Linked DNA regions of Homo sapiens: regions 1, 2 and 4 are each linked to region 3. The links come from fine-mapping of genetic effects on gene expression. A gene starts in region 3. Each other region holds a variant in brackets. All regions are shown on one strand. Distances are between the middles of the regions. Region 1 has its middle 32 kb from the start of TASL. Region 2 overlaps DMD (dystrophin). Region 3 holds the start of TASL (TLR adaptor interacting with endolysosomal SLC15A4). Region 4 has its middle 50 kb from the start of TASL.

Evidence for each region. PIP is the estimated chance that this variant, and not a neighbour inherited with it, causes the effect.
Region 1: its variant is the best candidate, but not a certain one, in a credible set for the expression of TASL in whole blood (TOPMed, PIP 0.51).
Region 2: its variant is the best candidate, but not a certain one, in a credible set for the expression of TASL in thyroid (GTEx, PIP 0.80).
Region 4: its variant is the best candidate, but not a certain one, in a credible set for the expression of TASL in whole blood (TOPMed, PIP 0.52).

Annotation. Positions count from the first base shown.
Region 1 is chrX:30,608,653-30,611,344 of GRCh38, forward strand. No RefSeq gene overlaps it. Among named protein-coding and RNA genes, the nearest start is that of TASL, 32 kb to the left of the region's middle. The variant G/A (reference allele first, on the strand shown) is at 1,325.
Region 2 is chrX:31,192,772-31,195,463 of GRCh38, forward strand. All of the region lies in intron 67 of DMD (dystrophin), which reads right to left. Among named protein-coding and RNA genes, the nearest start is that of FTHL17, 120 kb to the left of the region's middle. The variant T/C (reference allele first, on the strand shown) is at 1,247.
Region 3 is chrX:30,576,212-30,578,903 of GRCh38, forward strand. It overlaps TASL (TLR adaptor interacting with endolysosomal SLC15A4), which reads right to left and starts at 1,555. Exons shown (of 3, transcript NM_025159.3): 1 at 1,427-1,555; 2 at 541-655. RefSeq lists an enhancer at 1,577-1,786.
Region 4 is chrX:30,526,824-30,529,515 of GRCh38, forward strand. No RefSeq gene overlaps it. Among named protein-coding and RNA genes, the nearest start is that of TASL, 50 kb to the right of the region's middle. The variant G/A (reference allele first, on the strand shown) is at 1,384.

The sequences.
Region 1 (2,692 bases), 32 kb after region 3:
TTTAAAGTACTTTTTTTGCCTTTGTTTTCCAAACACAGCTATTTTGTCCTCAAAATAGTTCTGTGATACATGCAGAGGATTATTACCTAATTATTTGTACCTAATTTTAGATGTATAAAATCACTTGTCCAAAAGTTACACTGTTGGCTCATAGCTGGTTTCTGCAACATTTATTTATAGTATTTAAGCAGGCGGTCTTTGAAGTAGAATAGAATATATGAACTAAAATAAACCAAAAACTGAATTAGTTGATGGATTAGTCAGGATTCTTCAGAAAAACAGAACGTGTGTATACACACACACGGAAAGACAGAAGGAGAAAGACAGAGATGGTGAGATTTATTTTAAGGAATTGCCTCATATGATTGCGGGGGCTAAAAAGACCCAAACCCACAGATCAGACTGGAAATTCCAGCAAGAAGTCGACGTCCTGAGTCTGAAGGCAATCTGGAAACATCATTTCTTCTTCTTCAGTGGCCTTCCAGTCTTTTCTCTCAAGGCCTTCAACTAATTGGATGAGGCCCTCCCACATTATGGAGGGTAATCTGTTTACTCAAATCTACTGATTTAAATATCAATCACATCTAAAAAGATAACCTCACAGCAACATCTAGATTGGCATTTGACCAACTGGGCATAACAGCCTAGCCAAGTTGACACATAAAAATAACCCTAACAGTTGGGATTTGGAATGGCTACGTTGGACTCACATCTTACATTAAGGAGTGGCTTATAAACAAGATAGTTCTCAAGTAAGTAGTCAAAGTCAGCAGCCCAGGAATGGCATAGTAACCCTCCAGTCATTAAGAAACAGGCCCATTCCAGTTTGTTGCTCTACTGTCTTCCACACATAGCTTCTGCCTCATGTCCGAATATGACTTCTTAGACTCAACTATCCAATCTCATTCAAATTTTCTGGAAGAGCATCTACCTCACTTTAAAGACACTTCCTGGAAGTTTCACATGTCTTACACACATGGTCTAGAATTTACATAGCCACAGTTTGTTACAAAAGTGGCTGAGAAATGTTGTCTTTATTTTGGTGGTCATTTCTTCAGCTAAAATTCAGGGAATCTGTACTTTAAAATTCAAGGAAGAAAAAAGAATGGATAACTATAGAGAATAGGTCTACCATGCAGAGATTGTTACATTGCACAACTGAAGGGCTGCCATTTATAGCACAGTATATATCATAAATTATTCAGATCTACTCATATGTGAATGTGATTTAGTGATAGTCATATCAAAGTAGACCTAGTCTATGCATGGTTGAGAGGACTACACAAATCAAGGAGGCAGCAATCACACCACAATCTATACTAGG[G/A]ATCTTCCTAAATTCCTAATTTGCTTAGTGTGGAAGGAAGTGATGACCCCATGGAAGTAGACTTATTCTATATACAGTTGGGTGCACTACACAGCTGTAGGCAGACCTTTCATATTACACTCTATTCCACAGATGTTTCTGGGTTCCTTAATATGCTCAATATGGAGTCAGTGATGATCTCATAAAAATAGATTTAGTTCATGTGTAGGTGGGTACACTCCACAATTTAAGGATTCTATTTATATCACAGTCTATGCCATGAGTCTCTCCGGATTTCTCATATGCTCAATGTGAAAGTTATTGTTGCCCACATGAAATTAGATTGTGTCACGTACTTTGGGTGTGCTGTGTAAAAGGAAAATAAAATCTTGGAAACCCAATTCACTCTGCCAAAGGAAAAAATTAAGCTAAAAGCTGAGTCATGCAAGAAACTGCCTTTCCTTTTGTTTTGAAGCAAATAGCTACACATAAAAGGTTAAATATCTCCGCAGGTAACTACTCTATGTTCAGCTTATCTTATGTAAAGTGCCGATTTACTAAGCGTTAGACAAATACATAATTGACTATTCCCCTACCTGCTCCTATTCTCTAGCAATATGTAAATTCAGTAATGTGACCATGCCCTCCCTCTTTCCCCTCCAGCCTGCTTTTCCCCTTTAAATATTGAAGCCCTCAAAATCAGAAATTTTCCATCTTTTTTTAAAAGAAACCCTACACTCCACTGAAAACATTCGCAATGGTTTTAATCTGAGGCAGAAACAACAACTTGTGAAGCATTTGCCATGTGTTGGGCACAGTACTACACCCTTTATATGTTTTATTTCATTTACTCACTTCCACGACCCTATGAGTTAGTTACTAATCTTATCCCATTTTTATTTTTATTTATTTATTTGGAGACAGAGTCTTGCTCTGTCGCCCAAGCTGGAGTGCAATAACGCTATCTTGGCTCACTGCAGCTTCCGCCTCCCAGGCTCAAATGATTTTCCTGCCTCAGCCTCCCCAGTAGCTGGGATTACAGGCATGCGCCAACACGCCAGGCTTATTTTTGTATTTTTAGTAGAGATGGGATTTCACCCTGTTGGCCAGGCTGGTTTCAAACTCCTGACCTCAGGTGATCTGCCTGCCTCACCCTCCCAAAATGCTGCGATTACAGGCGTGAGCCAGGGCGCCCGGCCTTTACCCATTTTTAAAAACGAGAAAACTGGCCGGGTATGGTGGCTCACGCTTATAAACCCAGCATTTTGGGAGGCTGAGGCAGGCGGATCGCCTGAGGTCAGGAGTTCAAGACCAGCCTAACCAACATGGGGAAACTCTGTCTCTACTAAGAATACGAAAATTAAGCGGGACATGGTGGCAGGCACCTGT
Region 2 (2,692 bases), 620 kb after region 3:
TCTTAAAAAGACAGGACAAAAGTGATTTCCTATGGGAAAAAGCAAGGCGATCCCCAAAATCTTTTGAATCTTTAATTTGTTTGAAAGTACTAGAGTCTGATAGCTAAGTAAGCAAGGCCCACTTAGGACAATTTCCAGGTGAATATAAATCTTCAACTGAATTATATGCCGATAACATGGCTGCGAGAGCCAATGGAAGGTGCAAGTGAATACCCCACAACACTGATAAATGCATACTTATATCTCATCTGATCAACTCCTTTCCCCCTTCTTTTCAGCATTACATGTCCCTCGTACCATTAGATGCTACGGCATGTATGAGCTACCTGGACTGACAGGTGCGGGTCCATATATATTGAAGTGGCAAAAAGGAAAAAAAAGAAACAAAACTCTATGAGCTTCTCAATTCAGCACAGTTTTCATGTTACGTGTTTTAATTATGTCAATGTGTTGTTCCCATAAAAGGATTGGTTAATATGGAAATGTATTTATTAGACATCTGTTTATGTGGCTCTCTGGAGAAAGGACTTTCAATTCCATACACTGCCATTTTAAACAATTCCAAGACAAAAATAGTATCCAATGGCAGTTCAGTAAAGAGAGATATCATTCTTTGTACACTCAGAACCACCTTGGATGTCCACAGTGATATTCATGAATAGACGGGGGAGAGGTAGAAGCTCTTCTTTACATAAGAAAATGGTCTAATACATGCAGAAAGTATGGTAGAATTAGAAAGCCACCATTATGCAACCACCAATATTATAACTGAATTAGACAAGGATCATCCATAAATGCTAAAACCATAGGGTAAAAGGTTAAGGAATGGATATTATAATATGTCAAAATATCAAAAAATTACTTTCTCATTACAAAGGGAAAAGGATATTTTACAAGGAAAGTATCTTGTAGACACCACCTTAACATTCTTAGTGATACCAATAGGAACAAAATGTTATTTTGTTCCTCCAGATTGTGATACAGTGGTAGGTACAGAGCATCATCTTATCGTCTTTTGGCCAAAAAATGTTAACATTAATCTAATCACAAGGAAACCATCAGAAAAGCCCAGAGTATGGGACATTCTTCAAGAGAACTGGTCTGAACTCTTCAAAAATGTCAACGTCAGCCCGGCGTGGTGGCTGATACCTGTAATTCCAGTACTTTGGGAGGCCGAGGCAGGTGGATCACCTGAGGTCAGGAGTTCAAGACCAGCCTGGCCAACGTGGTGAAACCCTGTCTCTAC[T/C]AAAAATACAAAAATCAGCCGGGTGTGGTGGTGCATGCCTGTAATCCCAGCTACTCCTGAGGCTGAGGTGGAGAGTCACATGAACTCGGGAAGCAGAGGTTGCAGTGAGCCGAGATTGCGCCACTGCACTCCAGCCTGGGTGACAGAGCGAGACTCTGTCCCCCTACCAAAAAAGTCAATGTCATGAAAGGAAAACAAAATGCTGGGAGACTGTTCAAAACTAAATGAAGGTACAGAGACATGACAGACAAAAACCTTGACTAGATGCTGGAAGAAAACAGTGGCTATAAGGAACAATTCTGGGGCACTGGGGAAAGTTCAGTGTGGACTGCATATCAGAGGGTATTGCTGGATTGCTGTTAAATTTGTGTGTAACGATAGCATTGCAGTTATGTTAGAGAATGTCATCCTTTAAGAAAATGGTGTATGGTGAAGTGTTTAGGGGTTTATGTTGTGATGCTCCTTTACTTTTAAATGGCATAGGGGAAAATGTGTTTGTGTGTGTATGTACACAGACAGACACATACATAAACAGAGCTGAGAGGGTGGAGGAGGTAAGTAGAGCGAAAAGCAACCATGGATTGAACAGATGTATGACACAGATGAGTGTTCTTTAGACTATCCTTTCAACTACTCTTTGTGCTTGAAATGTTTCCAAAATAAAACGTTGGTTGGAAACCGTTATTTCTCCCAAGTCACCCCTTCATGGGAATAGGTTGTGGGCAAGGCAGGAGGGTGGGCAAGAGTGATTTTAGTAACTGTGAAAGGGACAGGACAATGGTATTAATGTCAATAGTAATGAGTGTGAAAAGTTCCCCAGGATTCGTTTTCTCTAAAAATACAAACCTAACGCAAAATTGATTTCCTTCCTGTCCTTGTCACGGTTCTTAAAGCATCTCCTCATCGACTCTGCCTAGATGTGCTTTTCCTAGATCCCTAAATGTGAATCTCCAGGCATGAAAATGAGTTTAAGAGTCCCCACATGCGCAGAAGCAGAACTTTTTGTTTAAGGATTGAGAGGTCAAGAGTTGTCTTTGTGAGACAAGAAGAAGTAAAAGGCTTCCCATAACTACCATCTTGGGTAGAAATCAAGTATTTTATTTAAAGTTCTGAAGATAATGAGCAGGTAGGAGGCCAGCAGTCACTGCTCTAAATATTAATCAGGACTCTGAATCACCCATTAAAGATAAAATCAGCCCAAACAATAACACATGGTGATTATCCACTCTTCATTTCCATGTTCAAGGACAACTGTCCTGACCTCAGGCTCTGCACTCCACCTGACTAATAAACCAATTAACGCCATGGCCCTAGGGAACATATGCACAATTTTAAATCTATGCAAATCCCTAAGTATACTCAACAGTATTAATTTATGCTACCGAGTTCTAATTTAACAGGAAAGTTAAATTAGAAAAGTTTCACATATACATGGTAAAGCACATA
Region 3 (2,692 bases):
TGTTGATGTTATGTTTCCGTGGTGTTGTAATGTGTTATAGAAGACTGCCTTTATTTTTAGGAGATACATGCTCAAGAATTTAGGGGTGACATGTGTCCTAAAGTCAGCAACATACTTTCAAACCATTCAGGGAAAAAACTGTGCATATGTGCATGCGTGTGTGTGAATATATATATACACATATAGAGAGAGAGAAAAGGACAGGCAGAGACAGAGAAAGACAAAGCGAGAGAGAAAGTAAATGTGGCAAAAAGATACCACTGATTAATACACATGATGAAAATATGGGTGTTCGTTGTACTATTCTTTCAATTTTTATATAGATTTGAAACATTTCTAAATAAAAATTGGGAGGGGGAAAAAACCATATTTAGTTAATGAAGGCATATTTACATTGTATAATGTTTATTAAGAGCCTAGAGGGACAATATCTTATATATCTAAAATAATCACTACATATGAGATGAGAAATGTCTCAGTGACTTGATATAAATACTTCAAACATCATTTTGCTCTGAGATAATAGAATTAGTGTACTACCTTTGAATATCTCCAAAATTCCACTTATGATATGGATGTTTGACACAGACTTCAAATACTCTTCAATCCTCCAGAAGCTTCTCAAGCTCAGAAACAATCTTCTTCTCACACTGACCTATGCAAGAAATGTTATAAAATATCAATATAAATATTCTGTCCAAACCAGGTCTATATTTAAGCACAGATTCATATGCGCAAGACAAAGAATGTTTGAGCGAGTCTAAAGATAATTCAAACAAAACTCCACTCGTACATGCGCTATCTTTAATACCAAAAGGGAAGCTTTCCCCAAATCACCCAGATGAAAGTCGAAAAGCATCCTCACTATAGATCGCATTCATTTTGAATACATCCTGCCACACAGAAAAACACTATCACAAGCTTGCTGAACTGAATAATTGAGAGTCAAATCCAATTGGAAAGGACTGTGATTGTTTTCGTCTCTAAAACTGCATCACCGTAACTGAATTCAAGAGCTGTGTTGTCCCTGCAAAACCCTGCTTAGGTTTTTAGGCCTTCTTTTAAAAATGCAGAAGCTAAACCAGTGTGGCAATTAGTGAAAGAGGACTGCAAAAATAACACAATAAATATTTGCTCAGATCAGTCAAAAATTGTAGGTAAAAATATAAGTGTTTTAGAAATGCTTAGAATGTGGACACGAGGAGGTAAGGAAAGGAAGTATTGGGCTTAATTTCTCTTTATTTTTCAACTCCACTGAATGCTTGTTTAAACTCCCACTTGTCTCTGATATGGTAAGCTAGAAAAGCATTTTAGATGTCATAAGAATGGATCAGCGCTCTCGTGATAAAGGGCTAAGAAAGCGTGAGAAGACAGATGACAAAAAATAATAGCGGAGTTCTAGGGTCCTTTGCTTTCTTTTTCTTACCTTCACTAACCAATCTGCTCATCTGATCCGGCAGAAACACAGCAACTGACCAAACAGAGAGATGAACAAGCCAGCCAATGCTCTTTCCAGAAATTTTCACAAGCCTTTCACTGATGAGACCAGTAGACTGAGCTGCTCAGTGCAAAGCCATTCTTTTTATAATTGGTCCCATGGAAAAAGAGTTGTTTTTGTTCAAGTCCGATTTGTGCTAAAGAGGCAGTGGGAAGTCCCGGGAGGTGGGGAGGCAGTAACTGACAAAGCCACATCAAGCCACAGAATGGTGTTTCTTCCCCTTTTTCGAAAAATGAAACCTATCTACGAAACTGTCTCTTATTAAAATAGTTTATGGTTACACATTTTGTAAGAACCCTAGCAACAGAATTAAATTTCCTTTCTAGAAAAGTACATTATCTGGGATCCTTCACCCAAAAGAAAGCCAAAGTCACATATGACTTTAGGAAATTCTGTTTCGTTACTAATCTATAATTTTTAAGAAGTATTATTTCTCAATGGTACTTATAATTTTTAAAAATGTAAATGAAAAAAATTTTCTCGGCCGGGCGCAGTGGCTCACGCCTGTAATCCCAGCACTTTGGGAGGCCGAGGCAGGTGGATCAGGAGGTCAGGAAATCGAGACCATCCTGGCAAACACGGCGAAACCTCGTCTCTCCTAAAAATACAAAAAATTAGCCGGGCGCGGTGGCGGGCGCCTGTGGTCCCAGCTACTCGGGAGGCTGAGGCAGGAGAATGGCGTGAACCCGGGAAGTGGAGCTTGCAGTGAGCCGAGATCGCGCCACTGCACTCCAGCCTGGGCGACAGGGCGAGACTCCGTCTCAAAAGAAAAAAAAAAGAAAAAAGTTTTCCCTCTCCAAATACCGAAGGTCAAAACAATAATACATGGTGTGGGCAAAGTTGTGAAGAAACAAGCACTCTCAAACACTACTGATGAGATTGTAAACATATTTAGAGGGCAATTTCCCAGTATCTCTCAAATACAAATATTCATACCCTTTGACCCAACAATTGTATTTTTTATAAATTTGTCCAAGCTATATGTTTACACTTGTACACAAAGACTTATGTGAAAAGATATTTGTTGCAGCATTGCTTGAGAAAATAAATGACTAGAAAAAATTATATCCATAAATAAGATATTGGCCAAGTAAATGAGAACGTATGCATACTTAAAATCCTATGTAGGTTGTGTGCGGTGGCTCACGCCTGTAATCCTAGCACTTTGGGAGGCCGAGGCAGGTGGATCACTTG
Region 4 (2,692 bases), 49 kb before region 3:
ACCACAATCTAAATTTTTCAAAATCAATATTATAAACAGTACATTATCATTAAGATAATTTGGAAAATATACAAAGACAAAAAAATCACATCTAGTCCCATTATCTCAGTATAGACTCTTTGAGTATTACGTGTCCTTTCTTCTAGCTTACTTTTTATGCAAAAATGATTTGTTTATTAAAAATGTAACAGTAAGTAATACTACATACAATATTGTTTAATGATGTTTCTCTTAATATTAAAACAGAAGTATTTTTCTACACTATTACATAATCTTCACAAATGGCATTTTATATAGTTCTGCAATGCCGAGACCAGCTCGGTCGGTCGTGGACACCCTAACCCAGCGGCGCTAGAGGAATTAAAGACACACACACAGAAATATAGAGTGTGGAGTGGGAAATCAGGGGACTCACAGCCTTCAGAGCTGAGAGCCCCGAACAGAGTTTGACCCACCTATTTATTGACAGCAAGCCAGTGATAAGCATTGTTTCTATAGATTGTAGATTAACTAAAAGTATTCCTTATGGGAAACAAAGGGATGGGCTGAAACAAAGGGATGGGCTCTGGCTAGTTATCTGCAGCAGGAACATGTCCTTAAGGTGCAGATTGCTCATGCTATTGTTTGTGGTTTAGGAACGCCTTTAAGTGGTTTTCCGTCCTGAGTGGGCCAGGTGTTCCTTGCCCTCATTCCAGTAAACCCACAACCTTCAGCGTGGGCATCATGGCCATCATGAACATGTCACAGTGCTGCAGAGATTTTGTTTGTGGCCAGTTTTGGGGCCAGTTTATGGCCAGATTTGGGGACCTGTTCCCAACACTGCAAAATAATTTCTCTAGTGCTATATCACAGATTAAACATTCTTTTTTATCTTCTTTTAATTAATATTTAATGATACATTAATTTTCATGATCATAAATTACACTGAACTTAATAAATTATGCAAAAAATGATCTTGACTCTGCAATGTCACTTACACTAACTCTTTCATTTTTTATAACTGGTATGTTTTTCACTCTACAGGTAGAATAAAAATTAAAGTTTAGCCCAACCTGGTAACTCCATTAAGTCTTAATTTAAATAATTTAAACTGAGTTTTATTTGAATGGGCCCAGACTTCAGATTTTCCTTGCATCTACTATTGTTTCTAAGAAGTTCACAGGGTTTACTCTACCTCGTGGCATTGTGGGAAGACAGCGTTGTCCATAACGTGGTATTGATCCGGTCCCATCCTTGGGTACTCTATTGGCACTTGCTGCTGAAGATTTTGGCTGATGCAACTTGTGGACTGCTCTTCCAGACAACTTGGCTCTATCTTAGTTCTCAGGGGTGCCTATGAAACCCCTCAAGAAGTCTCAGTATGTGTCAGTTGGCTTTAGTAGC[G/A]TGATAAAATGTTTTTAAATTTAGTGGTTTAAAATAACTATCTAGCTCATGATTCTGCTGGGCACTTCATTGTCTGGACCAGGCTCAAGGAATTTCAGTTGGGTTGTTCATGCATTCATGGTTGGCAGGTCAATGGGTAACCAATTGGCCTCACCATTCAAATGTTTGGTGGTTGACACGTACAACGGGAGTTACTAGCCCATCTACCTTTGGTTATCTGGCGGGCTAGCTGGAGGTTTTCATGTCACCACTGAAAAAAAAAGCAGCTATTACAAAAGCAGACAGAGGGGAAAACTCCACTGCGCAATTGCTTTTCAAGTCACTTTTCAAGTTTACATAATATTTTCTAATGTCCCATTGGCTAAAGCAAGTGTAGGGGTACACTATTAAAGGGCATGGATAGATGGAAAGAAATAATTTGTGGCCATTTTTATAAATTACAACATACTGTGATTGCCATTCAGTCACCAAGTGGGCCAGGTGCTGTGGCTCACATCTGTAACCCCAGCACTTTGGGAGGCCGAGGCGGGCAGATCACCTGAGGTCAGGAATTCGAGACCACCCTGGACAACATGGTGAAACCCCGTCTCGACTGAAAATACAAAAACTTTTCTGGGCGTGGTGGCACGTGCCTGTAATCACAGCTACTCAGGAGGCTGAGGCAGGAGAATCGCTTGAACCCAGGAGGCAGATATTGCAGTGAGCTGAGATTGCACCACTACGCTCCAACCTGGGCAACATAGTGAGACTCTGTCTCAAAAAAAATAAAATTACCAAGTGCCATAGCAACCCACTCTGGTATACTACCTGATTAGACTAGGTAACCTGTTGGGGGCATGTGGAAATAGTGCCATTTAAGACCCAAGGGCAGCTTTGGAGTATTAGCTCTAGTTTTCTCTGTCTAACCACTCCATCGTCCCTTGTTTCTGGGATAAGTGGGGAAAAGACCCCACCTCAGGTTTATCTTCAACCTCTCCTATATACATCCTGTCCACCTGCCAGGATTCTTAGTTGCAGACAACAGGATCTGCTAATTTAGGCATAAAATACATATCAAAATATGTTAGGCAGATACTGTGAGAGGACCAAAGAATGGACCTATATACTGTAGTCCCAGGATCAAAGCACTGAGAGATAATACAGTCTGAGAAAACACACAATTATATCGCAAACCCACCACTCAAATCCTTTGACACTGGATGCCAAAAACTCCACCACAGCTGAAGATCAAATGCCTCAACCCCTGAACTTTCCAGATGATCCCCTCTTCCCACCTGCAACCACCAGCTCCTGTTGCTACCTCCAAGTT